Homo sapiens: one gene and its partners. The protein of the gene in region 2 purifies or fractionates together with the protein of the main gene of each other region. This does not show direct contact. Each region holds a gene or a part of one and is shown on either strand. Other genes may lie near its edges. The genes, in order: DDX3X, BICD2, VPS41 and DYNC1I1.

Evidence for each region.
Region 1: the proteins of BICD2 (region 2) and DDX3X purify together in Homo sapiens (affinity purification with mass spectrometry; 2 studies listed by BioGRID, with this or other methods). This does not show direct contact.
Region 3: the proteins of BICD2 (region 2) and VPS41 purify together in Homo sapiens (affinity purification with western blotting; 2 studies listed by BioGRID and IntAct, with this or other methods). This does not show direct contact.
Region 4: the proteins of BICD2 (region 2) and DYNC1I1 purify together in Homo sapiens (affinity purification with western blotting; 4 studies listed by BioGRID and IntAct, with this or other methods). This does not show direct contact.

The regions. Positions count from the first base shown.
Region 1 is NC_000023.11:41,329,204-41,337,179, forward strand, and holds the start of DDX3X (ATP-dependent RNA helicase DDX3X), read left to right. Parts: upstream 1-4,958; 5' UTR 4,959-5,049; coding exon 5,050-5,094; intron 5,095-7,976. UniProt on the Homo sapiens protein: Multifunctional ATP-dependent RNA helicase. The ATPase activity can be stimulated by various ribo-and deoxynucleic acids indicative for a relaxed substrate specificity.
Region 2 is NC_000009.12:92,761,816-92,769,617, forward strand, and holds the start of BICD2 (protein bicaudal D homolog 2), read right to left. Parts: upstream 3,019-7,802; 5' UTR 2,930-3,018; coding exon 2,690-2,929; coding exon of another isoform or gene 2,609-2,689; intron 1-2,608. UniProt on the Homo sapiens protein: Acts as an adapter protein linking the dynein motor complex to various cargos and converts dynein from a non-processive to a highly processive motor in the presence of dynactin.
Region 3 is NC_000007.14:38,738,176-38,745,193, reverse strand, and holds part of VPS41 (vacuolar protein sorting-associated protein 41 homolog), read left to right. Parts: intron 1-1,651; coding exon 1,652-1,792; intron 1,793-3,072; coding exon 3,073-3,209; intron 3,210-7,018. UniProt on the Homo sapiens protein: Plays a role in vesicle-mediated protein trafficking to lysosomal compartments including the endocytic membrane transport and autophagic pathways. Acts as a component of the HOPS endosomal tethering complex.
Region 4 is NC_000007.14:95,767,908-95,775,568, reverse strand, and holds the start of DYNC1I1 (cytoplasmic dynein 1 intermediate chain 1), read right to left. Parts: upstream 3,016-7,661; 5' UTR 2,796-3,015; intron 1-2,795. UniProt on the Homo sapiens protein: Acts as one of several non-catalytic accessory components of the cytoplasmic dynein 1 complex that are thought to be involved in linking dynein to cargos and to adapter proteins that regulate dynein function.

The DNA of each region.
Region 1 (7,976 bases), on a different chromosome or scaffold from region 2:
CTATCTGTGAGGTAAGGCTAGGCTTTAAGTTCTGCATCACCTGAGAGAGTGATTGCTTAAAATGCCCCTACTACCTAAGAGGCAGCTCGGCCTCCTGAGGGCATATGACCCAACCCCCTTCACTATACTTCCAAGACTTCAGTCTTCGGTCACTTTGCATGAACAAAGGCAGAAATGCACTGAGCTTTGCTGTTTGAAAATATTTTTAGCAATTTTAGTGGTAGAAAAGATGCCCTTTGATACAATTTTGTTTTTGATCTTGTCTTCTTTGAGGAAGGAAAGCAGATTCCAGGCCGGATCTGCTGTTTGAGAGTATAATAATTGCCTAAGGCCAGGCGTGGTAGCTCACGCCTGTAATCCCAGCACTTTGGGAGGCCGAGGCGGGCAGATCACCTGAGATCGGGAGTTCGAGACCAGCCTGACCAACACGGAGAAACCCCGTCTCTACTAGAAATAGAAAATTAGCTGGGCGTGGTGGCGCATGCCTGTAATCCCAGCTACTCGGGAGGCTGGGGCAGGAGAATCGCTTGAACCCAGGAGGCGGAGATTGCGGTGAGCCGAGATCGTGCCATGGCACTCCAGCCCCTGGGTGATAGAGCGAGACTCCGTCTCAAAAACAAAAAACAAAAAACAGAGAGAGTAAGTACGGAACTGCATTTACCTCCACACCTATAATTATCCTTCTTATTATAGGGAAGTTCTATGTCTTTGAACTTTATTCCAAATCCACCCTAAAGAAAAGTATGGATCAGCTGGACCCAGGAGGCCCTTCCCCTGGACCTTGCAGAAAAATGACTGACAATCATGAAATTCACTAAAGGCTTTAAGGTACCTATCTCTTGGAATCCCTTTTACAACTCCTTTTCTTCTAGCTTCGGAATAGTCTAATTATCTTTGTCCCAGGTTTTAGGTTACTTGGGCACATTATTTATGTGCATCGCAATAATGTGATTTCAGTCTATCTCTGTCTCCATTCTGCATAGAGAGGTGTGACAAATTTCCTGTCCTCTGTGGGCTCACACACAGCTGCAGTACCACACGGAATTACAGTGGAAGTTTGAACAGTGGAGACTGTGGGAGCCCAGTGCCCAGAGCAACCTACTCTACTAAGGGAGTTGAGAGGATGGGGAGCTAGACACGTGTTATGTGGATCCAGAGCCACTTGGTACTAAGCTCTTACTCCCTGCAAAACACTTAAAAAAAAAAAAAAAGATCTTAAACACTACCTCTCCTCCCCCCCACCCCCGCCTTCTTTTTGAGACGAGTTTCACTCTGTCGCCCAGGCTGGAGTGCAGTGGCGCAATCTCAGCTCACTGCAAACTCCACCTCCTGGACTCAAGCGATTCTCCCACCTCAGCCTCTGGAGTAGCTGGGATTACAGGCGCGCGCCACCAAGCCGTAACTCCTGGAATCAAGTGATCCCGCGTGCCTAGGCCTCCCAAAGTGCTGGGATTACAGGCATTATCCACCACGCCCTGCCTCGCAGAGCACTTTCAATTCATGCACAAGCCCTTGAATCCCAAACACTCTTGGAGGCAGAGACTACTTTTATTCCAACTTTATAGATAAGGAAGCCAGGGCACTGTCAAGGGAGTTGCCTGGTGCCTGTAAGCAGGGAGCTGAACTGGTAGTTAGAGGAATTGCAATTCCCAGGCTCTGGTTCACTGCGCTACCTCCAGGAATGGGGGTGGAAGTGGAGGGAGGGGGCGGTGTTGCAGGAAGTACATTTGCTTCAATATGAACAGTTAAAATGCCTGGAAACATTAAGAAAGGGAGCGTGCAAAAAAAAATTTCCCTGGTTTCAGCCATTTCTTTCTTTTTTTTTTTTGGGGGGGGGCGGAGTCTTGCTCTGTCGCCCAGGCTAATTTTTGTATTTTTTTTAGAGACGGGGTGTCACGGTGTTAGCCAGGATGGTCTCAGTCTCCTGACCTCGTGATCCGCCCGCCTCGGCCTCCCAAAGTGCTGGGATTGCAGGCGTGAGCCACCGCGGCCGGCCTGGTTTCAGCCATTTCTAACCCTTTTTTAGGTCACTTCAAATAAAATTTGCAAATAACTGCCATGTGGAGAAAATATGCAAATGTTGCTAAACGGAAAAGTCATTCGGAGTGCTGTGAAAGTTGGCTCATTTATTTAGCTGCCTCAAGTGTGCACATCATTCTTTTTCAAAGTGAATGTGTTTAAAGACAAAGCTTTGTATGTTTTCCCGCTTCCTCTCCAATTGGATATTCCAATTATAACGTATTGATTAACAAAATACCCTGGTGGTTTGAACCAAGTATGCCTATGAGCAGGGGTTAATTGAAAATAGGGAACTGCTGTATATTTCAATTCTTTTAGGTACTCCCATGGCGGTACCCTGTACTCGGCTCTACTCAAAAGTAAAACAAAGCCCAGAACCAGGGTAGTCAGTGCATCCCATTGTTGCTATATGCAGTTTGAAGAGCTGTCGGAACTCACAGTTTTCGAACCTGACTCATGTTTACCCTGGTTCATAGGAAAACGAAACTGAAACAAAACCGAGGTCCTTCACCAAAACTCCATGAGAATCCACGAATCTCAGGGCAGGAAGGGACCCTAATATCATTAAACCTAGTGGCTCTCCAAGGGGCATTGTAGAAATCTGTGTATTTCTGGTTGTCACAATGACTGGCGAGAGCTACTGGCATTTAGTGGGCAGGAGCCAGGCACGCTAGGATGTTCTATGATGCTGGTCAGTCCCACAGAGCGAATAATTGAATCACTGGACACATGTCGGTGAAAAACTAGTTCATTATCATCTAAGCCTAGAACTAACACTGTTTTACATATGAACACAAAGTATCTTTGCCCAGTTTCCATATATCCTGAATTTTCCACAAATGCAGGTACTGTTTCAATTGAAGGAAGATTGTACTGTTTTATTTAAAAATTATTAATAGTTCATCATTTTGGAAAATGAGGTTCCTAGTAGCAATGCTGCTCATGGAACTTGAGTTGTGAAATCAACACACCTTTCCAGTTTGCATTTGTGGCTCTACTGGGCAAGTGTCTTCCCACCAGTTAGTGTAGCTGTGCGGCGGCATTTACATATTATAATACATTGTTTTATTATAATCATTTTGCTTTCGTTTGTTGACAGATCATGTTTTTTGAAATTGTGTTTGTAGGTTTACATAAACAATTTAGGTTTTGTTATTTCAGTATAGGTAAAGGGGGCGTTAGAAAATACTCGTTATGAAAAGGAGTTGGGTCTTTCACAGGGTTATGGAATGTAGCAGACTCCTTTTATAGATGAGCAAATTGAGACCCAAAGCCGTTAAACAACTTGCCCCCGACAGTGTGATATTCTCTCCCTATCTCGTTCGAATTTCCGTCTCGATTTTAAAAATTGAGAAGGGAGAGAAGTTATGTGTATAGTAAATTATGTGATGAGCACGAACTATTTGAATTCTGGCAGCAGAAGACCTTTTGTGGGGGTGGTGGAAACCACTGCGTTTTATTTAATTTCGTAGGGCTGAGGGTCAGAAGAGAGGGGAAAGCGGTCATAAGAAACTACGGATGTGCGGGCGCCGGCTCAAAGCCGGGAATCCACTAGTAAACACCTTCTTCTATTTAAGGGCCTGCGGCACCGAAGCCGGGACTTGGGGTGGCCTGCCTAGGAGGGAACCACAGGAAGAGGTTCCACCGACGGTAGAAACCCGGTTCCTCCTGTTCCTCATCCACCGCAGCGGCCTGAGAGTCACCCCGAGCCCAGGCCGGTAACCCCGCTGCAGCCCCTCCGGCAGGCCCAGGTTGCACCGGCTACAAACATTCCCGACACCCTTGGGCCCTAGAAGAGCCGTTCGCCACCCGCGGGGTCCCCGCAACGCCGGTGGTCACCGGCCCTAAGCCGCTGGGCGCCCCGCGGGAGGAAACTAGGGGCAAATGTAGCCCGCATTCCTGCGGAGAGCCGGGGTCCCGGGAGGGCGCGCCAGCGGCGGTTCCGGATCAGCGCGTGTCTGTCTCATTGTTCCCTCACCGCGGGGGGCGGGGGCGGAGGCGCGCGCGCACACGTCGGGGGGTTGGCCAGGAGGGGCCATTGTGTGTTTCTAGGCGGCGCCCCCGCTGCCTAGGCAACCGCGCAGGAAGGTGTCCGGCCACCTGCGCGCGCCGCCGGCTCCCCTCCATTTCCCCCCGACTCCCGCCCCGGTCACCATCCTACCCTCCTCCCTCCTCCTTTCCCCTTACTCCGCTCCCCTCTTTTCCCTCCCTCTCCTCCCCTTCCCTCTGTTCTCTCCTCCTCTTCCCCTCCCCTCCCCCGTCCGGAGCACTCTATATTCAAGCCACCGTTTCCTGCTTCACAAAATGGCCACCGCACGCGACACCTACGGTCACGTGGCCTGCCGCCCTCTCAGTTTCGGGAATCTGCCTAGCTCCCACTAAGGGGAGGCTACCCGCGGAAGAGCGAGGGCAGATTAGACCGGAGAAATCCCACCACATCTCCAAGCCCGGGAACTGAGAGAGGAAGAAGAGTGAAGGCCAGTGTTAGGAAAAAAAAAACAAAAACAAAAAAAACGAAAAACGAAAGCTGAGTGCATAGAGTTGGAAAGGGGAGCGAATGCGTAAGGTTGGAAAGGGGGGCGAAGAGGCCTAGGTTAACATTTTCAGGCGTCTTAGCCGGTGGAAAGCGGGAGACGCAAGTTCTCGCGAGATCTCGAGAACTCCGAGGCTGAGACTAGGGTTTTAGCGGAGAGCACGGGAAGTGTAGCTCGAGAGAACTGGGACAGCATTTCGCACCCTAAGCTCCAAGGCAGGACTGCTAGGGGCGACAGGACTAAGTAGGAAATCCCTTGAGCTTAGACCTGAGGGAGCGCGCAGTAGCCGGGCAGAAGTCGCCGCGACAGGGAATTGCGGTGTGAGAGGGAGGGCACACGTTGTACGTGCTGACGTAGCCGGCTTTCCAGCGGGTATATTAGATCCGTGGCCGCGCGGTGCGCTCCAGAGCCGCAGTTCTCCCGTGAGAGGGCCTTCGCGGTGGAACAAACACTCGCTTAGCAGCGGAAGACTCCGAGTTCTCGGTACTCTTCAGGGATGAGTCATGTGGCAGTGGAAAATGCGCTCGGGCTGGACCAGCAGGTGAGCCGCAAGAACCCCACCGGGCTGGCTGCTGCGTGAATTCCTCCCCTGACCTAACCTGGCTAATGGCGCAGCGCTAACCGGCACCCTTACTTTTCATTTTCTGGGTGCCCCGGGCTGGCGGGTGTGAGTGCCCCGGGGCTATAGAGGGATAGGAATGTTGGTTGGGGCTGTCGCCCGGGCCCGGTCTCGGCCCGCTGTATTGTCCCCGGGACGAGCACAATGGCGGCTTTTGTGTGTGCGTGCGCAGGCGGGCGGAGGGGGAGGAAGTGCGCGCGCTCTCGCGGGGACGCGCATGCGCGAATCCCGACTGATTAGTGACCTGGGGGGGTTTGCGGGAGTGCGCAGCGCGGCGGGACGCGACTGGAGGCCCTTTTGGCTTGGAGGGCTTCGGCCTTCACGGCTGGCGCAGCCTGGATTCCCGTCCGGAGGACCTGGCGGCACCCGGTGTTTGCGTGCCTGCGAGCAAGGGGTAGAACGCGGCCCAGGAATGTGGGAGGGGGCGGCCTTCGCTCGGGGTAATGGCGGCGGCCTCTTTTGTGTGGTGCTGGGCGGCGCTGTGGCTCACCTCCGGGAGACGGCGGGTCTCGGGCGGGCGAAGGCCTGGAAAGGAGGATGGAATGGGTTTCTTGTTTTTTCCCGGGTTCCTTCCGCTGGCTTTTTCGCTTCAGCCCAGGTTCCGCAGGGTCCGGGGGCCCTGCGCCGCAGCCGGGGAGGCTGCGTTTCCGGAGTGGAAAGTTTTGTGACGCAGAAGATTGGGGAGGAGTGGGGGAGGGGTGGGGGCGGGGAGGGGAGGCAGGAATTGGCCGCTGCGCGCTGGGCCCTGGAGATAGAGGTTGGACGTGGCGGGGAGGTTAGGGAGCCAGCGAGGCCCTTTCTCCTCCTTGCTTGCCCCAGATTGTCCCTGTGTGGTATGTTAGCCGGGAGTCCCGCGTTGTTTTTCTGGGGTGGAGGGGTCATCGCGGGTTGTGGTAGTGTCTTCGTGTTAGTGACTGTGATCCAGGAATCCGCCATTGGAAAAACACCCGGCTTAGGGGGGAAGTAAACAGTTTTGTTGTTGACTTGTTGCTATCTGTGGAGTAGAATCTTGCAATGGGTCCCAGGCCCCCGGGTTTTTTCTCTTAGCCAGAATCCCCTCTTCTAAGGGTTTAGGGGCAGAGGAGAGAAAGATGTGTGATTTGAGAGGAGAAGGTTATGGACTTTGGTGGCAGGAAGTCTGCATCCCACCGCAACAGTGGCACCAGGCTTCAGATAAGCTCTTGTGTGGGTTATGCGGAGCTTTTAAATAAACTACTGTCTACTGTGATTAGGGGAGCGTTGATTTCACAAACTCCGGAATAATCCTGAGACGAAGTTTAGTGGCACAAATTAATTGAATACATAGTTTAATGTAGTCATATGTAATATTTTTTAGGAATTGATCTGTTCCTTTGGAAGCATTTTCTACCCGTTAATGAACCAATTATATTAAATCCTCTAATTGCTGACACATGTTGAATTGAACAGACACTTTAACAACCTACCAGCAGCACAGAGTATTCCCAGTTTTACCATTTTCCATTTAGCTATAGTGTCCTTTTAAGGATTCTAGGCAACAGTGAACCTTATTTAAAAAGCAAAATTGTGCTATAACAAGTGCAAAAGGAAAGTTTGTGTTCCTACCGTGCTTTAAAGTATTGATGGTAGCAAGAGAAAGCGCAGTGGTGTTTTTGCTCATAGAAATTCTGGAAATTAGGTGCCTGAAGTCTTACACTCATTTTTTAAAAGTATAGCATCTGCTTCCAGTTTTCAGTGACTCCATTGATGATGCATGCGGTTTGGCCGTATCATACTGAGCTTTAAACACAAGATTTATAAACATGGTATGTAGTGCATCTTTTGCAAACAGGTTGGCAGCGGTACTGTGTGACTTGGTCTTTTGTGGCTTTTTTGAGAAAAATGAAACACTTTGCATGTATAGTTTTTTCTCCCAACTACTTGTGAGTAGTTCCTGGTTATAAAACGTTATGAAGGTAGCACATAACCCTTTTCTAGAATGAAGAGGCTTTTGAGCTACCAGTGTAAGGGGATAGGTAGAAATAGAGATGAAAGGCACTAAGATGTCCTACTCTTTAAGAGCATTGAACGCCAGTTGTGCCATTTATTCAAAGTCATCTTTGAACTTATGTTAAAATGGGGTAAAAACAGGTAACTACTTCAGGCCGGGCTCATGCTTGTAATCCCAGTGCTTTGGGAGGCCAAGGCAGGTGGTTCACCTGACCTGAGGTCAGGAGACCAGCCTGGGCAACATGGCGAAACCCCATCTCTACTAAAAGTACAAAAAGTAGCCTAGCGTGGTGGCGCACCCCTGTAATCCCAGCTACTCGGGGAGGTGGAGGTTGCAGTGAGCCGAGATCACATGACTGAATTCCAGCCTGGATGACAGAGGGAGACTCTGTCTCAAAAAAAATAAAAATAAAAACAAACGAAACAGTCAAACTACTTAAGAGTTGTGCTTAACATAGTGTTCTGTAAGTGGTAGGTATATTGCTATTTTTTTGTTGTTCTTAAGAGTACTACCCGACTAAAAATACTTGGGCAATATTTAGGGATGAAGTATCTAACTAAAAGAACGGCCACTTCGAAATTTGTCCTGACATTTTTCAGGTGTGCATTTTAGGTTTAAAATATCAAGTATTACGGAAAGTTGGCATTGGAAACTTTCATAACCGGCACTAAAACGAATCCTTTATCTATTTGACATTGAGGAATAATTTTGAGATTCAGTGTAAGCTTTAGTTTGGTGATTAGGGAGCCTGTGCTATGGAACATGTTAGTGAAAATTTATTTTGAATGCATGAATTAAATTTGGACAGTTTCTACTGAACAGCACAAGCATCTTG
Region 2 (7,802 bases):
CTGAGTCAGGCTCAAGAAATCACTAGCAGAATGATTAGGCAAAATCAACCAGGGGGCACCCACCTCACTTGTGGTCTCAGCCAGCACCGTGCTATGTTGTCAGCAGGACACAGACACTTCCCCCATCCCATGAGAAAGGCAACAGGACTGGCACTGTCTCCCATTCATCACCACAAGACCCTCCTCAGCTCTGATCAGAAACCCACACACTGGGACCAGCAGGCCAGCGTCCTTCCCTCAACGATCCTATTATCTACAAATGCAGGGCAGAAGTACAAGCAACTCCATTTGGAGCACAATTTATTAGTAACTAAATGCACTTTAGTTCAAGAAATAAAGTTTTCTAAAGAATTAAGGCGGTACACCGCTCTACAGGAGAAAAAAAACCCCACAATTATTGACTCCTTAAATCTTGTGGTTTTTTTTAAATGAAGAGTTAATATTTTCAACTATAATACTGGCCATAATTAAATAGGTTAGCAAGAGCCTGTGTTGGCATGGGTGTGAGGAACACGCATGCTGTTGATGGGGGGTGAACTGGTACAAACTTTCTGGCAACATCTACTGAAACTGAAACGCTGATGCACATTCCTCTAGACTCTGCTAGAGACCGAGCAGAAACATTCTTATCCCACCTTACAAAGGAGAACTAGATTCAGAACAGAGCAGTAATTTGTCCAAGGCCATGTGGCCAGTACATGGAAGCCAGGTGGTGACAAAAAACAAGCAAGCAGACGCCTAAAGAGTACCCACAGAAACAGGTATACCCTCTTCCTGATTCTGCTAGGGACTCACCCTCCAGATACATGCCACGAAAATGCCAAGATTCTTCACTGTGCCAAAACGTTTGTGTCAGAATAGCAAAGACCTGACAAATGAAGGGCACCAAAGCGGGGACAAGTTAAGTCAGCGACAATTCCTTCTCACAGAGGACACTGCCAAACCCAAGCTGTGGACAGAGACAGGGACTGTAGAGGCTGCCCAGGAGCGGCTCACGATGCACTTGGTAGGAGGAAGAGGGCTGCTTCACTGTGTGCAGAGGGAAAAGCGCCCTAACAGATAGTGCTGCCTGCTGGAGAGGGTGAGCCCCGCTACAGGAGACCAGAAACTGGCCGAGTCCACTCCCACTCCATATTCTCAGAGCCCCCTGCCTCCCTATCACACGCCCCACCCTAAGATGGGGACTCTTGCAAGAGCAGCTGCATCTCACCCCTCTTGTAGCTCCAGCGCCACTGGAGCATGCATTGCAGAAGGTGCCAATACCTGCTGACAGACAACAGAATCGAGTCCTGAGGGCGATGGGGGAGGACCCAGCTCCTGCTGGCCCAGGGTCAGCCATTGACTGGTACTAACTGAGCACCTGCTCTGCCCAGACATCCAAGCATCTGCTTGGATTCATTCTCTGCTCTCCACAGACGGGTCTCCTCAGACACGGGGGAGGCAAGGAAGGCTGCAAATGATTTAGGCACCTGTCTGGGCTGACTGGGAGCAGAGGTGCCAGGTGATAAGCCTGGAAACCAAGAGCCAAGGGCTCACCAGGACACACTCAAGTGGGGGAAGGGAGCACACCACCAAGCTATACTCCTGACCGCACACCAGTCCTTTCCAAATACATGACCCTCACAACAATCCTTTCTGGGCACGCAGTACTGCACTCCCATTTTGCAGAGGGGGAAACTAAGACTCACGGAGGGCCTCTACCCAAAGCCACATCACTAGCAAGGGGCACAGCCTGGATCCAAACCCTGGTGTATCCTCCCAGAAAGCAATTCCTGCAAACAACGCTATGGAGTCAGGGAACGGGAGAAGAGAAGCTGGGGAAGGACTGTCCAAGACTCCCGCTGCCCTGCCGCCTGGAGACCCTCGACCAGCCTGGTGGTCTAACCTACTCTCCCCCCAGTGGGAATGACACAGACCACTGAGGTCTCCGTCCAAGAGGAACACAGCAAGCCACAGCGAGGGGAAGGGCCCGAGAAGCGGGGCTGGACAGGAAGTGGGCCAGGGAAGTCATGCTAGCTGGTGGGAGCGCAATCCCGGCCATGAGGACACAGCGCTGGGCCTGGGGCAAGGGTACTGGGGGACCCATGCCAGGGGCAACCTCCACGTGCAACCCCGAGCCCCTACTCACTTAGGCCGCTGTCCACGACCTTTCCCCACCTCGGAGGCACTCATGAAAGAAGCAGAAACGCTCCGAAAGTAGCTGCGCCCAGAGAGGGGAAGTGCTTTCTCTGAAGGTGACAGAGCCGCAGCCACCCAGACCCAGGCCCACCCTCGGCCTCTCCCAGCGGGTCACCAGCATCCGTGGCCTCAGCTCCCGGCTCAGCCACTGCCCTCCCAACCCCACCCCACACTCAGACACACCCGGAACAGCGACCACCGCAAAGCATCAGCCCTTACGAAGCCCCGCCCCGCCGGGGCCGCCCAGGTCCGCACAGAAGCAGGCGGGCAGCTGCAGGAGGCGACAAGGCGCCCGGACCCCTGCATTAGCGGCGTCTGCAACGGCCGCGGCACCGGCCTGCTAGCCAAGGCCGGGCCCACTCCCACATACTGCCCGTGCCCCCTCCGCCCCGGCGGCCCACCCCTGCCGGCCCCCGCTTGGCAAGCTGACCTTGGCCGCCCTGGTGCCAGGGACGACGCCCACAGGCCCCGGCGCCGGGCGGGGGTCGCAGGGCAGGGCGGCTCGGCTCACCTCCTTGAGCTGCTCCATCTCGCTGCGGATAGCCTCATAGTCCACCTCGAGCTCCTCGAACTGCAGCTTGAGCTGGTGCTTCTCCTCGAGCACCGCCAGCCCGTACTCGGCCGCCTGGATCTTCTCACGCGTGGTCTCGGCCAGCTCGTGGGACAGCCGCTTCACCTCGGCGCGCAGCCACTCCGGCTGCGCCTCCATCACCAGCCGCGCGTACTCCTCCTCCTCCGACGGCGCCGACATGGTGGCCGAGGGCTGAGCCGGCTCCCACTGAGGCTCTCGCAGGCCGGGCCCTCCTCAGCCGCCGCCGCTGCCGCCGCCGCCGCCGCCCTGCCCCGACGGCCGCCCGCCCGCCCGCGCCGCCGCACGGCTCCTCCCCTCCGGCGCGCGGGGCCCGCTGGGGGCTGGAGTCCTGCCTGCGCTCCGACCACAAGGTCCATCATGCCCGGCGCCCGCCCGGCCCCCGGCTATGATTGGCCCATGCTCTGTGAGGGGCGGGCCCTCGGGCGCAGCCACTGACGCCAATGTGGCCCAGGGGGCTGTGGGGACAGTAGTCCCGCTAGCGCACCGACTACAAAACCCGTCCAGCCCCGCGCCCACCCGTCCCCGTCCGTGATTGGCCTGCGCCGCCAGCGTCGAGCCGGATGTACCGGCGCCTTGCAGTCCCCTGGACGGCGGTCGAGTGGGCGCGGCCCCGCGGCCTTCCCCACACTCAGAGCCGGGGACACTGCTCGGTCGCCGGGCCTCGCGCTCCCCTGTGCCTCTGGCAGCCGGCGGCCACGCGGGGTGGCAAGACGGCTGCCGGGAGAACCCCCAGGGGGAGGCGGGTGCGGGGCGGCAGGACTGGGCTCCCGACCGTGGGACGAACAACGCGGACAGAGCCCGGGAGGCCACGAGCTAGAAGCGCATCCGAGAGCGCGGGTGAACGGCTGCTGCTGGAAACCCGTGGACGGTGTGACGCATGCTCTGTGCAGACGTCTGGGGGCGGGAGGAGGACGGGCCAGCAGGGGGCGCCCAGGGGCCAGCGGGAACCTCAGCACCGCCCCTCAGTCCTTCAAGGTCTATTTCTTGGGAATAAAGACATTTCCATTAATACAGGGTCATAAACGTGGTAAATATAATTGTTGTCTCCGCATCTATTTTTAGGCCTGACTTAAGTTGTTTGAAAGCCAGTCGTACCCTTCGCCTTGGCGTAGGTAACACTTCTCCGTATATGGTGGTGTGTGAGATAACTCGTTTATTCTTTATCTCATTGACCTAAAGCGCAACACACCCCACAGCCGCTGACCGCCATAGCACCTAATGGCCAGTATCAGTGCAGATGAGTTCACCCTTCCCTCGTATTTTCTTTAGCCAGTCCACAGGCCCCAAGGGAAATCCTAAAGGATGATTTCCATGGACCCTAGCACAGCCATAGTCCCTTCCTTCCCACCGTCTCTCACTGCCCCTCTCCATCTGCTTGTCCGCCTCTCTTAGGCATCCCTAACCTCTCCGGAACCTAAGAATAATAAATTCCTTCTGTTTTGTACCTTTTAATTTTACTTTCTCATTGTATCTCACCTGAACCCCACACCCATTCGGTTCTCCTAGAGAGTGGCTATCTTGGCTTATGGTCACTCTCCCTCAAGACCAAATTAGAAAGAAGCCATGACAGCAGAAATCACAGCACACAGGGTACTGACACTATCTAATGCACAGTCCACACTCTAATTGCACGAGGGCCCAACACCATACTGGAGAGTTTCAGTATTGTTTTTGTGGTCCAGGATCCAGTTGCATTCAGTCGTCAGGTTTCCTGAGTCTCCTTTGATTGACCTTTCTGAGGAGTGCAGTGCACACTGGTATATGCTCATGGGGTGATGAGGTGATGCGTTTCTGGCAGGACTGTCACTGAGGTGTTGCTGAGTTTTCAGAGCACCAGCCGGGAGGTATGTGATGTCGATTTGCATTTCTCTGATTGATGCTGGGTTTTTCTTTGGTAATTAGTGTCATGAGTGAAGACTTTGCAACCATAGATATAGCCTATGACTCCTCAAACCTTGACCCACTGGTTTTGGCATTCATGACTACTTCTTGCCTGAAATAATTATTACCATACTGTCTGCTTTTTTTTTTTTTTTTTTTTTTTTTTTTTTGAGACAGAGTCTCGCTCTGTCCCCAGGCTGGAGGGCAGAGATGCAATTTCGGCTCACTGCAACCTCTGCTTCCCGGGTTCAAGTGATTCTGCCTCAGCCTCCCGAGTAGCTGGGACTACAGGCGCATGCCACCATGCCCAGCTAATTTTTTTTTTTTTTTTTTTTTTTTTAGTAGAGAGTGGGTTTCACCATGTTGGCCAGGATGGTCTCGATCTCTTGACCTCGTGATCTGCCTGCCTCGGCCTCCCAAAGTGTTAAGATTACAGGCGTGAGCGACCGCGACCAGCCATACTGGCTGCTTTTCTATTTCCATTAGTCCTTCTCCATTTATGAGTTGCCTTTGTACTGTGAGGCACCTATACCTTCTCATCTATTCCCTTCTCTCTCATTCATTAGCAGTATGGATCCATGGATTCTTATTTTACTCCGTGGGTTACAATCCATTACTTTCCTTACTTGCTTTGATGCTCAAATGGTAGCAGATTTGGCCCGTGGGAGCTCCTCCAAGCTGGCTCCATGTCTTCAAAACATCGTAATTTGTTATTATTGTTATTACTTCCTTGATGTCTGATGCAAATTGTTCCAAGATCATCTTGTGCTCTCCATGTCCCAGACCTGAAATCAGTCATTTCCCCAAGGAGCCCTGATTCTTTTTAGTGTTTTGTTTGTCTGAGGAGAATGTGTCATAGATTGGCTTGTGAAATTAACTAATTTTAAGGAGTTCAGTTGTAGTAGGAATAGGAAGACCAACCTTCCTGGCTTACCTGGGACTGTCTTGGGCTGGGCAAATTGTTAACTGTAAGTGGGAGAGCTCCCAGTGTAAAGAAGGAACAAGACTTGTTTGAGTGTGTACTTAGCAAGGGAGGGACTGATGCCCCACAGTGACTTGCCCAAGGTCACACAGCCTCAGGGCAACACCTGCACCTGATCCAGGCTGATCTGACTCGAACCTCCCCACCCCCCGCCATACCTTGCTGTGGGGCAGGTCTGAGGAGGGAGGGAGAAAGACCATGGGAGTCCCACGCAGGGACTGACCATGGCGCTTTGAACTTGGAAACAGGTGGTGGTGGAAGGGAGGCCAGGGAAGGTTTCAGGAACATTCTGTTACAGGTAGGGACTCTCCTAGGTGCTGGGGGCAGAGGGTCTGTCACTACCCTTGTGGTCTTCCTTCTGGCAGGAGGGACAGCTCTGGGTGCGAGTGGCAATGTGTGATGGGGTGGGGTGGATCGGGAAAGGCTTCCCTGAGAAGACACCTGAGGGAGACCCAGAGGATGCACAGGAACTGGCCAGCCCAAGGCTGCAGGAATAGGGGGCTTGCAAAGATAAGAGAAGCAGGGTGATCCTGGCAGCAGATAATGAGCCACCTCTTACTGAGCTCTGCATGTGTTCCCAACATTGCCAGGTACGTGACATACATCTTCTCATTCAATCTTCACAATACCCTGAGGGGTAGAAATGATGCCACCTTCTTCTCCTCAAGTCTCTCTGTCTCTGGCCAGACTCTTCTCCAAAGTTACACCATCAAGCTGTCACTCTGAAGTCAAGCCGCTTCTCTCCAACATCCAGCCATAGTCCCCGACATCCAGCTGCTTCTCCTGTCTGCTGGCTGAGCCTGGGGTCCTTATAGGCAAAGGATGGGGCAGGGCGGGGCCATGGGTAGTTTAGGAAACAGCGACATTTGAGTGGGAAACAGGGATATAAGTTCTTATTTTGGGCTGCGGTTTCAGGCCTTTCAGCTTGACGGTGAGGCTTCACCAGGGACCCGCCCTTTTCTACCTGGAATTTCTCTGCCCCAGTCCCTATCACCTGGACCATTACCGTCACCCTCTCACTGCCTCCTTGCCTCCTCCTTCCCCTAGGCTTCTCTCACAGCAGGGCAGCCAAGAGTTTCCTTAGACCCAAGTCAGGTCCCATTCCCACTCTGCTCAAAACCCAACCAAAGTCAAAGCCCCATCATCACAGCTACCTCCAAGGCCCTGCACGCTCAAGTGTGGCCCTTCCTCAACCTCTTCCTTCCCCTCTCCTCTTGTGTAGCTCTTGTAAACCAAAAAGTATCTGAGACAAATCTTAATCAACTCAGAAAGTTTATTTTGCCAAGGTTAAGGATGCATCCATGACACAGCCTTAGGAGATCCTAATGACATGTGCCCAAGGTGGTCAAGGTACAGCTTGCTTTTATACATTTTTGGGAGACATAATGTCAGAGACATTTGAACCAGAGCAACTCCATCTCAAATAGGGGCTGAGTAAAATAAGGCTGAGACCTACTGGGCAGCATTCCCAGGAAGTTAGGCATTCTAACTCACAGGATGAGATAGGAGGTTGGCACAAGATAAAGGTCACAAAGACCGTGCTGATAAAACAGGTTGCAGTAAAGAAGCCAGACAAGGCTGGGCACGGTGGCTCACGCCTTTAATCCGAGCACTTTGGGAGGCTGAGGCGGGCAGATGACCTGAGGTCAGGAATGCGAGACCAACCTGGCCACCATGGTGAAACCCCGTCTCTACTAAAAAAATACAAAAATTAGCCGGGAGTGGTGGCGGGTGCCTGTAATCCCAGCTACTCGGGAGGCTGAGGCAGGAGAATTGCTTGAACCCGAGAGGCAGAGTTTGCAGTGAGCCAAGATCACGCCACCACACTCCAGCCTGGGTGACAGAACGAGACTCTGCCTCAAAAAAAAAAAAGAAGGCAGACAAAACCCACCAAAACCAAGATGGCAATAAAAGTGACCTCTAGTCATTCTCACTGCTCATAATGTGCTAGTTATAATGCATTAGCATGCTAAGACACTCACACCAGCGCCGTGACAGTTTACAAATGCCATGCCAATGTCAGGAAGTTACCCTATATGGTCTAACAAGGGGATGAACCCTCAGTTCTGCAAAGTGCCTACCACTTCCCCAGAAAACTCATGAATAATCCACCCTTCTTTAGCATATCATCAAGAAATGACTATAAGTATCCTTAGTCAAGCAGCCCAT
Region 3 (7,018 bases), on a different chromosome or scaffold from region 2:
CCCTAAATAACTAGAGGAAATGCAATTGAATACCATAGTTTTGGAGAAGGAGGAGAGCTTTTTAATATAATCTAGGTGTCAGTGTTCCTGGTCTTCTGGCTCCTACCTCCACATGAGTCACAATTTTTGTACCATGCATACCAAGAAACAAAACTTGTCATCTTTTCACATTCTTCCAAAATGAGCCACGTGCATGACAACAATGTGGGTTGTACTGAGGATTGCATAATGTAGCATATAACATAACATTCATATTTGGTGTTTCTCCATTGTCACTTCCCTGCTGACCTCAGTAGGGTTTTTCCGCTTTACGCCTTTCCCTTATACAGCACTCACTCTCATTGGCCTCTTTGCCTCTGTTGAAAAATAATCCAAATCCTCTATTCCCTTTTATGTGTATGCAGATTCATGGGTGCTCAGCCACAAACCCAGAACTGTCCAGTTATAGCACCTGCCCTTCTTAGGAGAAGTGCTTTTGGGGCTGCATTTTGTTACTTCAGCATGTTCCTGGGGTTCTAATCACAATTTTAGGTAGCTCATCAATTCACTAATTCCAAACAGTGTTCTCCCCAAGAAATATTTTGGTGGAATAAATTTTTGTCATATTGTCTTAGAAGCAGTAGAGGACTTATTAGGGACATATAGTCTGATTTTATAAAAACTTGATAATCCTGTAAACATTTTTAAATAACTAACCATTTTTAGAGACATAAACTGTGGAAATAATATTTGTAAGAAACACAAAATGCTGTGGAAGGGGTATCAAATGGGATATCATTTCATTCACAAGCCAGCTTTTATCAGTTGATAATGGCCGTGTGCAGGGGGAAGGATTCAAGATCCTTTACTAGTTCCTGCAAGCCCAGAGACAGGGGTAAGGGTGACAACCTACAACCAGGCAGTTGTTGTCCCTCCACTGAGTAAGGCTTTCTTACATGCACTATATTAAAAACTCATGGAAAACTTTAAACTATTAAAATGCCATAGGTCAGTGAGCAAAGTATGTAAAGACAATTAGCCAATAGAAGGCATGGTTGATAAATACTTTCATCTCATGAGGGTTATTGAAAGGCCTTCCCCTGAACGTGGGAGAGAAGAAAATGAGGAAGCCCTCTGATAGTTGAGTTTGCAGTTGGCACAAAGTGTATCAGAAAAGCAGTATGCACAGCTACCTCATGAGGCAGAATGACTTTAGGGCCTTTAAACATTTTAAGTGTATCTGCATGTGAAGGTATTGACCTCCAGAATATATATAAGTCTATCAAAAGTAAGTCAGAGTATGACAGACCTGGCTTCAAATTCACAGTGTACTATTTAGTAGCTGTATGATCTTAGCAAGCTACTAACATTTCTATTTCCTCTTCTATAAAAGAGGAATATTAGTAGAACATGCCTCATAGGGTTGTAGTGATGGTTATATGATGTCATTTATATGAGGCACTTAAATGAGTACTCAGTACAGAGTAAATATCCAGTAAATAGGAGATACTTATTTTGCTATGTTATAGACAGTAAATGTTGGTGTCACATGAGAAAATAGCCTTGTCTTAGCTTTCCACCTATGTAAACAAATTAAGAGATATGCAATTTCTTTAAAAAAATTATTAAAATACCTTAAATGAACTCTTTCTCCCATCTTCACCCCACCAAGGCCGAATGGGTAATAGCCGAAGTGCCCTGAAGATGATTATGGAGGAATTACATGATGTTGATAAAGCAATCGAATTTGCCAAGGAGCAAGATGATGGAGAGCTGTGGGAAGATTTGATTTTATATTCCATTGACAAACCACGTAAGCATAAAAGCCATCTCTGGTTATAACTTTTTTTTCTCTCAGTGTAACCAGTTATGTCTAGATTAAAAACTATTTCAAGATACATTGGGTTAAGAAAATGGTAGCGTACCTACAATAAAAATAGGCCAGGTGTGTTGTAATGATTTCCAATACTCCTCCTGTGCTGGAAAACCTGGAGCCTCATCACTTTGCATTACCTGCATGTGATGAAGAACAGGTGGCTACACAGTTTATTAATTGTGTCCCCATGAGGCATATTTTTACCTGCTGCAAGCAAATTGAATAAATGTCATCTGGGTTGTGTTGGTGTGGTTTTTTTTTGTTTTTAGCTTGTATATGGGAGTGTTTATAGTTTAAGTGTATAGACCTTACCAGTCTTTTTTGGAAACATGTAACTGTTCTGGACATTGATGATATTTGGATGTTTGTGTTGTAGTATTTAGCCTCTTTCCTGCACTATTTTTATCAGTACAACACCCAGAGTTTGTATTTGTTGGTCCTCAGCTTGACTGTTTGCATTGGGTCTCCCATTTTGGAAAGGAAAAAACAAAAGCAGTCACCTAACAGAAACCCAACTCTTTTGAAAATAACTAGCAGTAGTGATTTGAAATTTCCTCTTTCCTTTTTTTTTTTTTTAAGTTTGGTAGGAAGTCTTTGTGTTCATGTAACTACCTTAATCTGAAATTGACTTTAATAACTATCCTCTTGACAATATAAAGAATCTCACTTGTAACTAGCAAGATAAAGTAGTAGTTTAAGGATCTCAAGAGGCAAAGTGATGTGGCAGAACATATCATAAACTTGAGGCTGGCCTGAGTGAATTTGGGCACATTACTTATTAGCCGTGTGACCCTGGAAAAATTAAACACCCCATTTCCCTTGTCTGTAAAATGGGGACACAGCATTCCTACCTTGCACAGTATTTGAGGAAAGTGTATATGATACCTGAGCCATAGTCAGTTGTCAATAAATATTATTTACACCCATTTGATGCTAAAAACTGTATTTTGAAGGCAAGTAATCATTTGTTCAACTGTTTTAAAACAGTTCTTATTTACTTTCTCCTTCATGTCTTAAGGAGCGTTAGTTCTTGGAAGTTTAGAAGATTAATTCTTAAGAGTTTAGAAATTCAAATGGTTTTAACACTTACTTTGAAGGAAATAATTTTTTCTTTGAGTTACTTTTGATCTAAAATTGCATTATATGCAAATTATGTGCAAATAAAATTGCATTATAATGTTGCTTATATGTTCATTGTTTTATGTGGTATTTTGTAGCATTTATTACTGGCTTGTTAAACAACATTGGCACACATGTTGACCCAATTCTACTGATTCACCGTATTAAGGAAGGAATGGAGATCCCCAATTTGAGAGATTCCTTGGTTAAAATTCTGCAAGACTACAATTTGCAAGTAAGTATCCTTTCTTGGACAAATGAGCATCTGAATTAGTTGACTTAGTACTGGATAAATATTTCTAGGGTTTATGTTAGGTATCAGTTAAAAACTTTCGATTTTATGGTTACATTTTATTTAGGCCCAGATATTTAGAAAACTGTTCAAATAGAGTAATTAGAAACATCACCTTTAAAATTGCGTTGTCCAGTAATACCTTAAAGGCCTTAAGAAGGCTATTTGATTCTTTAGCCATCTCCAATTTTCACTTGTTTTTGAGCAGACATTCTTACATTTGTATGGTTAATATAACATGGAATCGAGGCGAGTATGAAAGCAGTTATAGTGGCCATTAGATCGGGCCACCCCAACATTTTTAGGGAGAATAAGTATTGTATCCGTTTGAGGGAATTAACAAAAATGTTTTTCAGTAAGGTAATAATTTTTCTTGAAGCCATTCAGTAGTCTGTTGCCTGAAAGCTGTTAAAATATAGGATTTTATTTAACCTTTTGTCTGTTTTCTAGAATAGTGCAACTTTATTATCCTTGTTAAATCAGAATTTGTCATAAGAACAGTGGAACTCATTATTTTCATATAAATTATTATACTAATTACAAAGCATCTTAATCTTTTCCTTAAAAAGACTCTAGCAATTACTATTTTTCAGGATGCTGGTAACTTCTATAGAACTTGAATTAAAACATTTCCTTAAAAATTCGGACTGTTGTTCTTCCTCTAATTTACTTGAAAATGAGGTTTTATTAATAATGGATGAAATTACTTTCCTAGAAACAATTTTTGCAGGTAAAGCCAAAAGAAAAGGCTATTAGCTGAGGAGCATTATGATGTGAGATCCATTGGGCCAGGATTCACCATGCAGGTTGCAAAGTAGAGGTCTGCCTGCACTCAGGGTGACAGCCTTAGGTAAGAGGCAGGGTGGAAAGGAGAAGATATTGCAGGAACATTGGTGGCATCAAAAACAGATGTAAGAGATGAAAGGGATGGCAGAGCTGCAGGGACAAGAGGTTGTGCCAGAGAGTGTGATGTCATTAATGTTTCTGAAGCGGAGTCATGGTGTATACGTGTTCAAAAAGTGGGATGATGGTAAAGGTCATTTGTGTAGAATTAGTAGAGAAACTGAGGCCACAGCCTTTCTGAGTCATCCTAATGGACATGAAGGCCAGGAGGAAGAAACAAGGTGCTCTAAGCCAGGCTCCAGCTTCTCCACAGGGGACAGTAGTATTAACTGGACAACACGACTTTAAAAGTGAAGAAGTCTAAAGATGGGGGTGGGGGTGTGAGAGATCATGCAGCCTTCACTCCGGAGAGCTTTGTGGGAAATTGGGTTCATGGGAGAGAAATTGGTATTCGTTAAGCCAAAGAAGTAGATTACCTGTTCCGCAAAAAGCTTAACGATATATAGGCATATATTTCCAGTGGGATTTGGAGGTTTGCAGATGACCCAGGAGAAAGGTTATTGGAAGGAGAATGAGAAAGTCAAGAAGGAAATAAAAATATGGGAATGGGTTAATAGGCAAAGAGAGGTGAGGTGAGGAGCTGGCTTTTCATGCCACGCCCTAGGAATCCAGAAAGGTGACGTCCCTGCCTGGGGAAGTCACTAATTTTGAAGGTCAGATTGGGCTTTGGTGAAAGTGTTTTCAGTATCAGAACTTATAAGCCTCTGAGTGTGAGTGAGCTTGATAATGACCTTTACTTCATTGACCCTTACCAACCCCAGGCATGCCAGGATATGCTCTAGGTTTCAAATCCACATTTGATGAGAAGTCATTTAGGTGTCTCTGAACAACCCTCCCCCAAGGGAAGTAGTAAATAATTATCCCTCTGCCTTTCAGCTGTAGTGCAAGAAGCTTGCACTAGGTTAAAAGTTGTGCCTTTCTTTTTCGCCAGCCTCCGCAATGACTGCAAGACCACATAGTGCATCCCTATGACTAGGTCATTCTTCCAGAGAACCAAGCTCATGGGCACCACTGTGATCTCAGTGTTCATTCATTTTTAATAAATAAATTTGCATCATTCTGAGTCAGCTGGTAATAAAAATGAAATTATTATTAGATGCAAAATGAATGCCTAACATAAAAATATCTACTAAAGAAGCTACTAAATATTTTTTCTTAATTAGAGCTTTTCCTTAAGATATGTAAGTATGTAGTTCGGTAATGTGTTAAGGAGGTTCAGAATTATTTAGCTAGTGGGTCCAAAAAGCTGTGGTTGCCTGTGAATCCCCCAACCAAGGGGTGGCTTCTCAGAGGGTGAGGGAGAGATGAACAGGGAAGGCAGCAGAGCCTGTGGAAGCTGCTGCATCTGGAGTCCCCACTGGAGCTCAGGCATCTTGTTGGAGAATGCAGTCAGAAAATGCTCTCCGGGGGCAGGTGGTTCAAAGAATTCCAGGCATTATTTTTCCCTCACAGATAAAGAGTTTAAAATATTTTTCTGCTCTTTTTACATAATGTATTAATGACCGCTTAATGTGTTTCCTTTCTCTAGGCAACCTATTAGGGTTCACTGTAAAAATAAATCTATCCAGAGAGCATTTTGCAATTTCCAGAAGGATTTCACTTGCATGTTTTTATTTTATTCTTTTTTTATTTTGTATTTTATAAAACTATGTTGTTTTTCACATACTCTCACCTAGCAAAGTAAAAAATTAGCAACCCTATTCAATCTGAAAATTTGGGAGAAATTTTGCATGTTCATCAATTTCCAGGAATCTGGAAGTGACTGTGTGTGTGATGGGGCTGGGTGGGACAGTAACCCCAGGGGCTATCAAGAACCATTCAGTAATGTAGGGATCTATGGTCAGATGTTGGGGAAATGTTCTCACAGGGCTTCTCAGCACCTTTTCTTGCTGGTATGCATTGGGAATCTCTAAAGGGAGATTGACAATAGAGTATACAGCATTTAAAACTTGGGCACTGCTTTGGGAGATCATTCATTAGCCAGTTGTTAATTGGAAAAGCGGGTTAGAGAATGTTGTGGGAAAAACTTGAAATGAGTAACTCTTCTGCTTTTAGTTTCACGTTTTCTAAAATGTAACAGCTCTCTTCAACCGAAGGTTAGCATCATTAGGTTTGTTAGATGCCTATGACATGACATAGTTTAAGGAAGTAGTATAATCAACTACATCAGCAGTGTTTAATTTCTTTAACTTTCTATGTTTTTATACCCGGCTACCTTGTTAGTGTAATCACTGCACAAATTTTAAAAGCTTCATGAAGTCAGTAAGATGCAAGTGGCATGTATTGCACTTCATAAGCTTTAAATGTTCCTAGGCCTGATTTCAAGGACAAATAGCACTTATTTTGATATAACTTCCAAAACAATATGGTATCAATTATACTTCAGTTTTTATGTAAACTGACCAGTTTCCAGTTTATGCTACAAATTTCTAATGTTTTTACATTTTCTATTTTTAAAACATTATAAATTTAGCATGTAGTTGTTGAGCGTTTATGTCCATTTTTGTAGTTGGAGGCTTTTTTCCCTTGAGAATTTCAGCATCTTTGTTCTTAAAGACTTCTTTTGACGGTTTTATTTGACAAACATTTAATCTTCACAACACTTCTGTAGGAAATATCATCTTTGTTTTACAGATGAGAAGGTTGTCTCTCAGAAAAGTTAAGTGATTTGCCAGTCTGGGAAGGTGATGAACTGGGTTTGAACACAGATCACAGATCCTCTGACTAAATCTCATGCCTTTTTTAAATCAGTGACTACATTACCTTTTACAGCCACAAGTAATCTCTAAAAAATCTGCTAATTAGAGTGGGGTCTTAGTTTTTTTCATTATGGGTAACACCTCTTGGGA
Region 4 (7,661 bases), on a different chromosome or scaffold from region 2:
AATAACAATGGATCACACTGAAATTGGAGAGCAAACCTGAAAGATACAGACATACACTCGCTTTTTTGTCTCTCACACAGCACAATAGCCAAAATGGATGGGTCCTAGTTTTAGAGTCTTTGGAGAGATCTCATTTGAATCCTACCTCTGCCATTTATTAAATGATGTTGAGTATGTCATTTAACTCATTTAATTATTTGGAAAATATGGATAATAATGTCTACTTCATAGGATTAATATAAGAATTAAAATGAGATAAGAGAAGAGCTTGGTATTCAATATATGAAAATTAACCAGTGTAATTGTTTCATAGTACGGAAGAGAGAGGTTAAAACTCCTGGCCTGGAGTCAGGCCTTGATTCAAATGCTGCCTTGCTCAACTTAGTAGCTGAGCAAAAGTTACTTGACACCTTTGTGTCTTAGTTTCCTCATCTGTAAAACAGGATTACAAACAATATCTGCCTCATAAGATTTTTGTGATGTTTAAATAAGTTAACACCTGTGAAAGTATTTTAAAATGCAATGCCTGGTAAAGTGCTCAATATATTTTAGCTACTGTTATCAATCTTTGTTTCAAGTGTAGGGAGAATAAAGTAATGAAGGAATATATTTGTTTGAAACAGATTTTGAAACAGATGCATGTGACCTTTTCATTTGATGCTACGTTAAACAACAAAGAAACTGGAGAAAACGGTAACAGGATGAAGCCGGTGCACACTGTCTGTACTAAGAGGGGTACCTAGATTTCAGATTTGGCATGCATTTTACAAGACTGGTCTACATCGCTGTTTTTATGGACAGAGCAGCACCCAGGCTGGATCCTTGACTCAGCACTGTCATCAAAGGCAAGGCTCATTTATTAAACGTAGACTCGGGAAGGAGTATTTTTGGAAGCAGAGGGATTGGGAAGAAAGACCCTAGAGCCTTCTCTGAGATATAAAACATGGTGACTGAAATGCCAAGTGACTTCTTACTCTCTTCGAAGTTAGTCAGAAACTGAAGACCATGGACCACTACTTTAAGAACTCTGCCCCTTTTCCTGCGGGTCGAGTTTATTTTCTCTGCTCATATCCCTACTGGTGATTTACCTAAAGCTTTAACAGTAAAACAATCATGCATGTTTTCAATAGCAAAGAGGGAGGAAAGGCTGGGGGTGGGGAAGGACTGCAAGCCAGCCCCTCCTCCTCCAGGGGACTGTGCACCAGCGGCTGCAGCATCTCAGAGGTCCAAAGAAGGAGGAAGCAAGTGCATTTGTATCTGAGGCCTGAGACAAGGAAGACAAAGTAAAATGCTGAGATGCTGTGGGCCAGAAACAGGGCTAAGAGCTTGACAGGCTGGAAAAGCCTGCATTCGACCCCCAACTGTATTCTAAAAACTTCCCAAGGATGGTGCTAGAGGTTTTAAGAGGAATGGGTCTTGGAGCACTGGATCCTCAGACCTAAACAAATATTCGAGAGTTAGTTCTTATGAAGAGAACATGTGGTAACTCAGTGGCAGGTGTTTCAGATTTTATTTTATTGAGAAATATGATCAAAAGAGCTGAGTTAGGACCCCTTTTTCCACACCAAACCTTTTTGAACAAACTTGGCATTTTAAATAATTAGAGGTAGTATTACATTCTCACCAGTACCCTCAGCTTGCAAATTGCACTGAATATTCCCTTTTCAAATTTACTAACACTGATCAACGTATATCTCTATAATTTCCACAATTAAAGTATGTACACAGACTGGTTACCCATGTCTGTGTTAACATCAGGCGTTGGGTTGTCACCTGCAGTTGCCTATGCCTTACTGTTAGCTATACTTTTTGCTAATCTGGAATATTTGGAAGCAATTCTTCACAACTCTGAACTACAATAAGTCTACAATGCCCACTTGAAAGGCATTCCAAGCAAGAAAATGGCTGGCTACTTGTTCCTGCCCCTTACCTAGGATTAGTAGAGGCCAGAATAGCGAATATATTCCATCTTCTGCATGTTGTTGAGTCTCTGATCTCCTATGTAATTTCCTGTCCTGATCCTGGGCTTCTGTTTAATCTTATTAGCCAAGGTACAAGTCATGAGACTCCCGCACACTCAGTTCCCATCAGCGCTGCCAGGATCACTGCCCTTATGATGACGACGCACGGATTTATAAGGCCAGAGCGATTCCGAATGGGAGCGGGGGAAGGAGAGCCAGGCGGCCGTGAAGGTGTTTACCAAAACAACATCCCCCAGCCACACTTTTTCGCAGCAGAGAGAAACTGGCATCTTCTCGCTTTGAAGTGTTTAATTAATGCCCTGCTGGAAGTGAATTCGCTCCCTCCGACTTGCAGGGTAGTGACAGCATCTAAGAGCTTTGCAGACAGCTCGAAATGTAATCAAACAGCATCCTTTCCCCTCCCTCTGCAGCTTTCCCCCTCCTCCAGGGGCAGTCAGCCGGTGGCCCAGAGGGGTGCAGATTTCAGCGCCGCTCGCCCACTGCTCCCCCGGGGAAGACCGAGGCGGGGCGCACTGGGACGCCCTTCCCAGCCCACAAGGTGGGCGACCAGGTGGTGACACCACGACCCTTCCTTCTCTGCCCTAGTCTCTCGGCTCTGCCGAGAGGGGGGTGTCACTGGGGGGCTTTGGCCGCCTTCGGGCTCAGCGGAGCACGCAGGAGCCTGGGCAGGGGGCCAGGACAAGGGTCCGGCTGCGGCTGCAGGGGCCTCGGCTCCAGCCTGGTTCCCAGCGCAGACGACACCGGGGTGGGGAGGGTTGGGGAGAGGTGCGGAGGCGGCCGTCCGGGGAGCGGCGACATCCCGCTCCAGTTTACCTGGACGCGCTCGGCAGCGGCGGAACTGGGCTCCCCGAGCCGGCGGCGGCTCCTGGGCGGCGGCAGCGTTGGTGCAGGCGGCTCCCGAAGGTGGCGGGGCCGGCGCGGGCAGGATGTGCTGTCTCACGCTGCGCCGGCCGCTCGGCTCGCGCTCCTCCGGGAGCGATCACTTCCTCTCTCCCAGAGCCTGACACTGACAGCTCCCCGGAGCACTCAGTCTGCGGGGCTCGCCCCGCCCCCTGCCCACGCCCTCCACGCCCGCGCCCCTCCTGAGGGAGGGCCTCCGCTCCGCGTCTTCCGCGCCCGGTCTCGCCAGGAGGGGGTGGCGCCGCTCCGTAGGCTGGTGGCGAGCAGAGGACCTGGAAAGGTCAATTCGTCTATCCCTCTAACGTCGGTAGGACTTAGACCTCAGTTGCTGCAAAGAGAAGAGCTTCAATATTCTGGGAGCTCCTGCTGAAATGCCACCATTGAACAACTTTCACTCCCAGGCAACTACACTTCTTAAGGTCATTTAAATAGAAATAAAGCTCAGATCTACCTGTTGTACACAATGACTTATAGGTCTGATTGATCCCAATTTTTCTAGAAGAAAAAAGAATTAAGTGTGTGTGTCTGTGTGTGTGTGTGTGTGTGTGTGTGTGTGTGTGGTGTGGTGTGTGTGTAGCTTGTCTTCACATTGCTTCTTAAAGTCCCAGCTTTTAAAAATCTGGGTAACTGGCCAGACGCGGTGGCTCACGCCTGTAATCCAAGCACTTTGGGAGGCCGAGGAGGGCGGATCACCTGAGGTCGAGAGTTGGGGGACCAGCCTGACCAACATGAAAAAACCCCGTCTCTACTAAAAATACAAAATTAGCCGGGCGTGGTGGTGCATGCCAGTAATCCCAGCTACTCGGGAGGCTAAGGCAGGAGAATGGTTGAACCCGGGAGGCGGAGGTTGTGGTGAACCGAGATCCCGCCACTGCACTCAAAGCCTGGGCAACAAGAGCGAAACTCCGTCTCGGGGAAACAAAAAAAAATCTGGGTAACTATTATTGGACTCTGCAAAAAACAAGCTTGCCACAACAGCTAAGTTATAAGGCCAAAAAATTGAGTTTGGGATGTTAGGGGGTTTGGTATCATTTTATAGATGAGCTTTTCATCATATTTCTTGCACATCTGTGGTGTATTTTTACACATTAGAATGTAAATTAGTGGAGGGCAGGGACGCTATCTTGTTCACTGCTGTATTCTTAGTATCTAGAACAGCATTCTGATATATAATGGGTACTCAGTAAATATTTATGAACTTATTAATTCACAAGTACTACAGTAATTTCAAAATAAATACAGATTCTAGTATGAATACAGTATGAATACATACTCATCTGTAAATGGCCATCCTTATTCTAAAACTTTGGCCTCCCTGGCTAATCTACTGCGATTGTAACTATGGCTAGAAATGAAGAGGTTAAATGTCTAGGTAGAAGGTATTCAAGGTATTCCAGAAGGAAAAATCTAGGAAATAAATATTTGCCACTACCGTGACTGAATATTTAATACATGTCAATTCTACATACATTTTTCTTTAACTTTTCTATAACATTATGTAGTACATATAACGAATGCCATGCCTCCAGAAAAGGAACTTGAGTCAAAGAAGTTAACTCCCTTGCCCAAGTTCCATAACCACTGAGTGATCTAGCTGAGATTTGAATTCCCATTCATCTGCAGCTTGTACTTTAACTACTTTGTATTTTGGTCTTTCCAACATGGCATTGCTTTTGTTGTTGTTGTTGTTTTGTTTGTTTGTTTGTTTGTTTTTTGAGACAGAGTCTCCCTCTGATGCCCAGGCTGGAATGCAGTGGCACAATCTCGGCTCACTGAAACCTCCATCTCCTGGGTTCAAGCGATTCTCCTTCCTCAGCTTCCTGAGTAGCTAAGATTACAGGTGCACACCACCTAGCCCGGCTAATTTTTGTATTTTTAGTAGAGATGGCATTTCTCCATGTTGGCCAGGCTGGTCTCGAACTCCTGACCTCAAGTGATCTGCCTGCCTCAGCCTCCCAAAGTGCTGGGATTACAGGTGTGAGCCACCATGCCTGGCCTCAACATGGCATTGTTGAGTGCCCACGAAGTAGGAGCTGGGACTTAGACACTGGACCAAATTGAAGACTAGCTAAAACAGGGATGGGGCGGAGGCAGCTTTCCATAAGAGATGCTCACCAGTGTGCCATGTCAATTTACCACTGCCGTGGCAAAACCCAGGAGTTACCACTCCCTTCCATGGCAATGACCCCATGACCCAGAAGTTACTACCCTTTCCCTAAAAATTCTGCATAAACTACCCCTTGATCTACAAGTAATTAAAGTAGGTACAAATATGACTGCAAAACTACCCTGAGCTGTTACTTTCTGCCTGTGGGGTAGCCTTGCTCTGCAGGAACAGTCACAGAGCTGTAACACCATCAGAGCTGTAACACTGCCACTTCAACAAAGCTGTACTTTTCAACCCTACCACTGGCTCACCCTTAAATTCTTTCCTGGGCAAAGCCAAGAACCTTTGCGAGCTAAGCTCCAATTAATTTGGGGGCTCCCCTGTACTGCATCGCACACAACCTGCAAAGCATTGTGCTTGGAGCTTCACATGATTTAAAAAAGAGAATATAATCCCTCTTCTTGAAGGGGTTAAAATCCAGTTGGAGGTGCAAGGATAGGTAAAGGCAACATAATTAAGGACAAACAATAAGGAAATACCCAAAGCAGTACAATGGTTTGGGTGGATGAGATGGAAGGAGGAAATTAGAATTATGACAATAGATAGTATTGAAATAGGTAGGGTTTTAGAGCAGAAATGAAGAGCAGAGAACATTTTCAGGCGTAAACAAAGCTCCAAAGAAGAGAAAGAACAAAGTGTACTCAGCAAATAGTGAGTGGGCCAGCTTTTTGGATCATGACAGACTCATGGGAGAGCCAACTGGGGCCTTGAGAAGGGCTGTAGAGCAGATAATGGAGAATCATTAAAGGCCTTTGAGTAGAGAATGACACTTGGGAAGAGTCATCTGGGGCTATCTTCGGGTAGAGGATTGAACAAGCAAAAGCTTAAGAGACAAGTTTAAAGTTCATTCAAAGAATCCAGGTCAGGATTTAAAAGGCCTGAGTTTGCCAAGTTGTATTCATGACAAATAGCCTGTAATGTATGCCCACAGCAAATTAAGCCCTCAATTTCAAAGTTAGTTATAATATTATCACTTCTCAGTATTTAACCAAAATAATTCAAAGTAGGATTTCAGAGAGATATTTGCACATTCATGTTCAATGCAACATTATTCACAATAGCCAAGAGGTGGAAGCAACCCAAATGTTCATGAACAGATGAATAAGTAAAGAAAATTTGGAATATATATGCATACAGTAAAATTTTATATTTAAAAAGGAAGAAAATCCTGTCACATGCTACAGTGTGGATGAACTTGAAGGACACTGTCGTAAGTGAAATAAGTCAGTTACAAAAAGTAAAATAGTGTATGATTCCACTCATATGAAGTATCTAAAGTAGTCAAAATTGTAGAAAAAGAAAATGCAGGCATACTACGGAGATATTGTGAGCTCAGTTTCACATCACCAAATATCACAATAAAAGTGAGTCATACACATTTTTTTGTTTCCTAGTGTATATAATAGTTATGTTTACACTATACTGTGGCCTATTAAGTGTGCAATAGCATTATGTCTAAAACATATACATGTCTTAATTTAAAAATACTTTATTGCTAACAAATGCTAATAATCATTTGAGCCATCAGTGAGTTGTAATCTTTTTGCTGGTGGAGAGTCTTGCCTCAATGTTGATGGCTGTTGACTGATCAGGGTGGTTGTTGCTGAAGGTGGGGTAGCTGTGGTAATGTCTTAAAATAAGACAACAATGATGTTTGCCTCATCCATTGATTCTTCTTTTCATGAAAGATTTCTCTGTAGCATGTCATGCTCTTTGATAGCATTTAAACAAATTTATGGGCACATAGAAGGTATTTAGTATTTATGAGGTACAGGAGACATTTTGATACAGGCATGCAGTGTGTGTTTGGTAGCCCTTTATCCACAGAACCTTCAAAACTGAAGTGAACTATGTCAAACCCTGCCACTGCTTTATCAAATACGTTTATGTAATATTCGAAATCCTTTGTCATCATTTCAACAATGTTCATAGCATTTTCACCAGCAGTAGTTCCCATCTCAGTATATCACTTTCTTTGCTCTTCCATAAGAAGCAACTTCTCATTCATTGAAGTTTTATTATGAGATTGCAGCAATTCAGTCACATCTTCAGACTCTACTTCTAATTCTAGTTCTCCTGCTATTTTTATTACATCTTCAGTGATTTCCTTCACTTAAGTTTTGAGCCCCTCAAAGTCATCCATGAGGGTTTGTATTAGTCCATTTGCATTGATATAAAGGAACCCCAGAGGCTGGGTAATTTATAAAGAAAAGAAGTTTACTGTGGCTCATGGTTCTGCAGGCTGTACAAGAAGCATGGTACTGGCATCTGCTTCTGGTGAGGGCCTCAACAACCTTACAATTATGGCAGAAAGCAAAGGGGGAGCTGATGCATCACATGAATAGAGTGGGAGCAAGAGAGAGAAGGAAAGTGCCACAGTCTTTTAAACAACCAGATCTCCTGTGAATTCAGAGTGAGAACTCACTCATTACCATGGGGAGGGCACCAAGCCATTCATAAAAGATCTGCCCTCATGATCCAAACACCTCCCACCCGGCCCTACCTCCAACATTGGAGATTACAATTTAACATGAGATTTAGAGGGGACAAATAAACAAACCATAACAGGGTTGGAATTAACTTCTTCCAAACTCCTGTTAATGTTGATATTT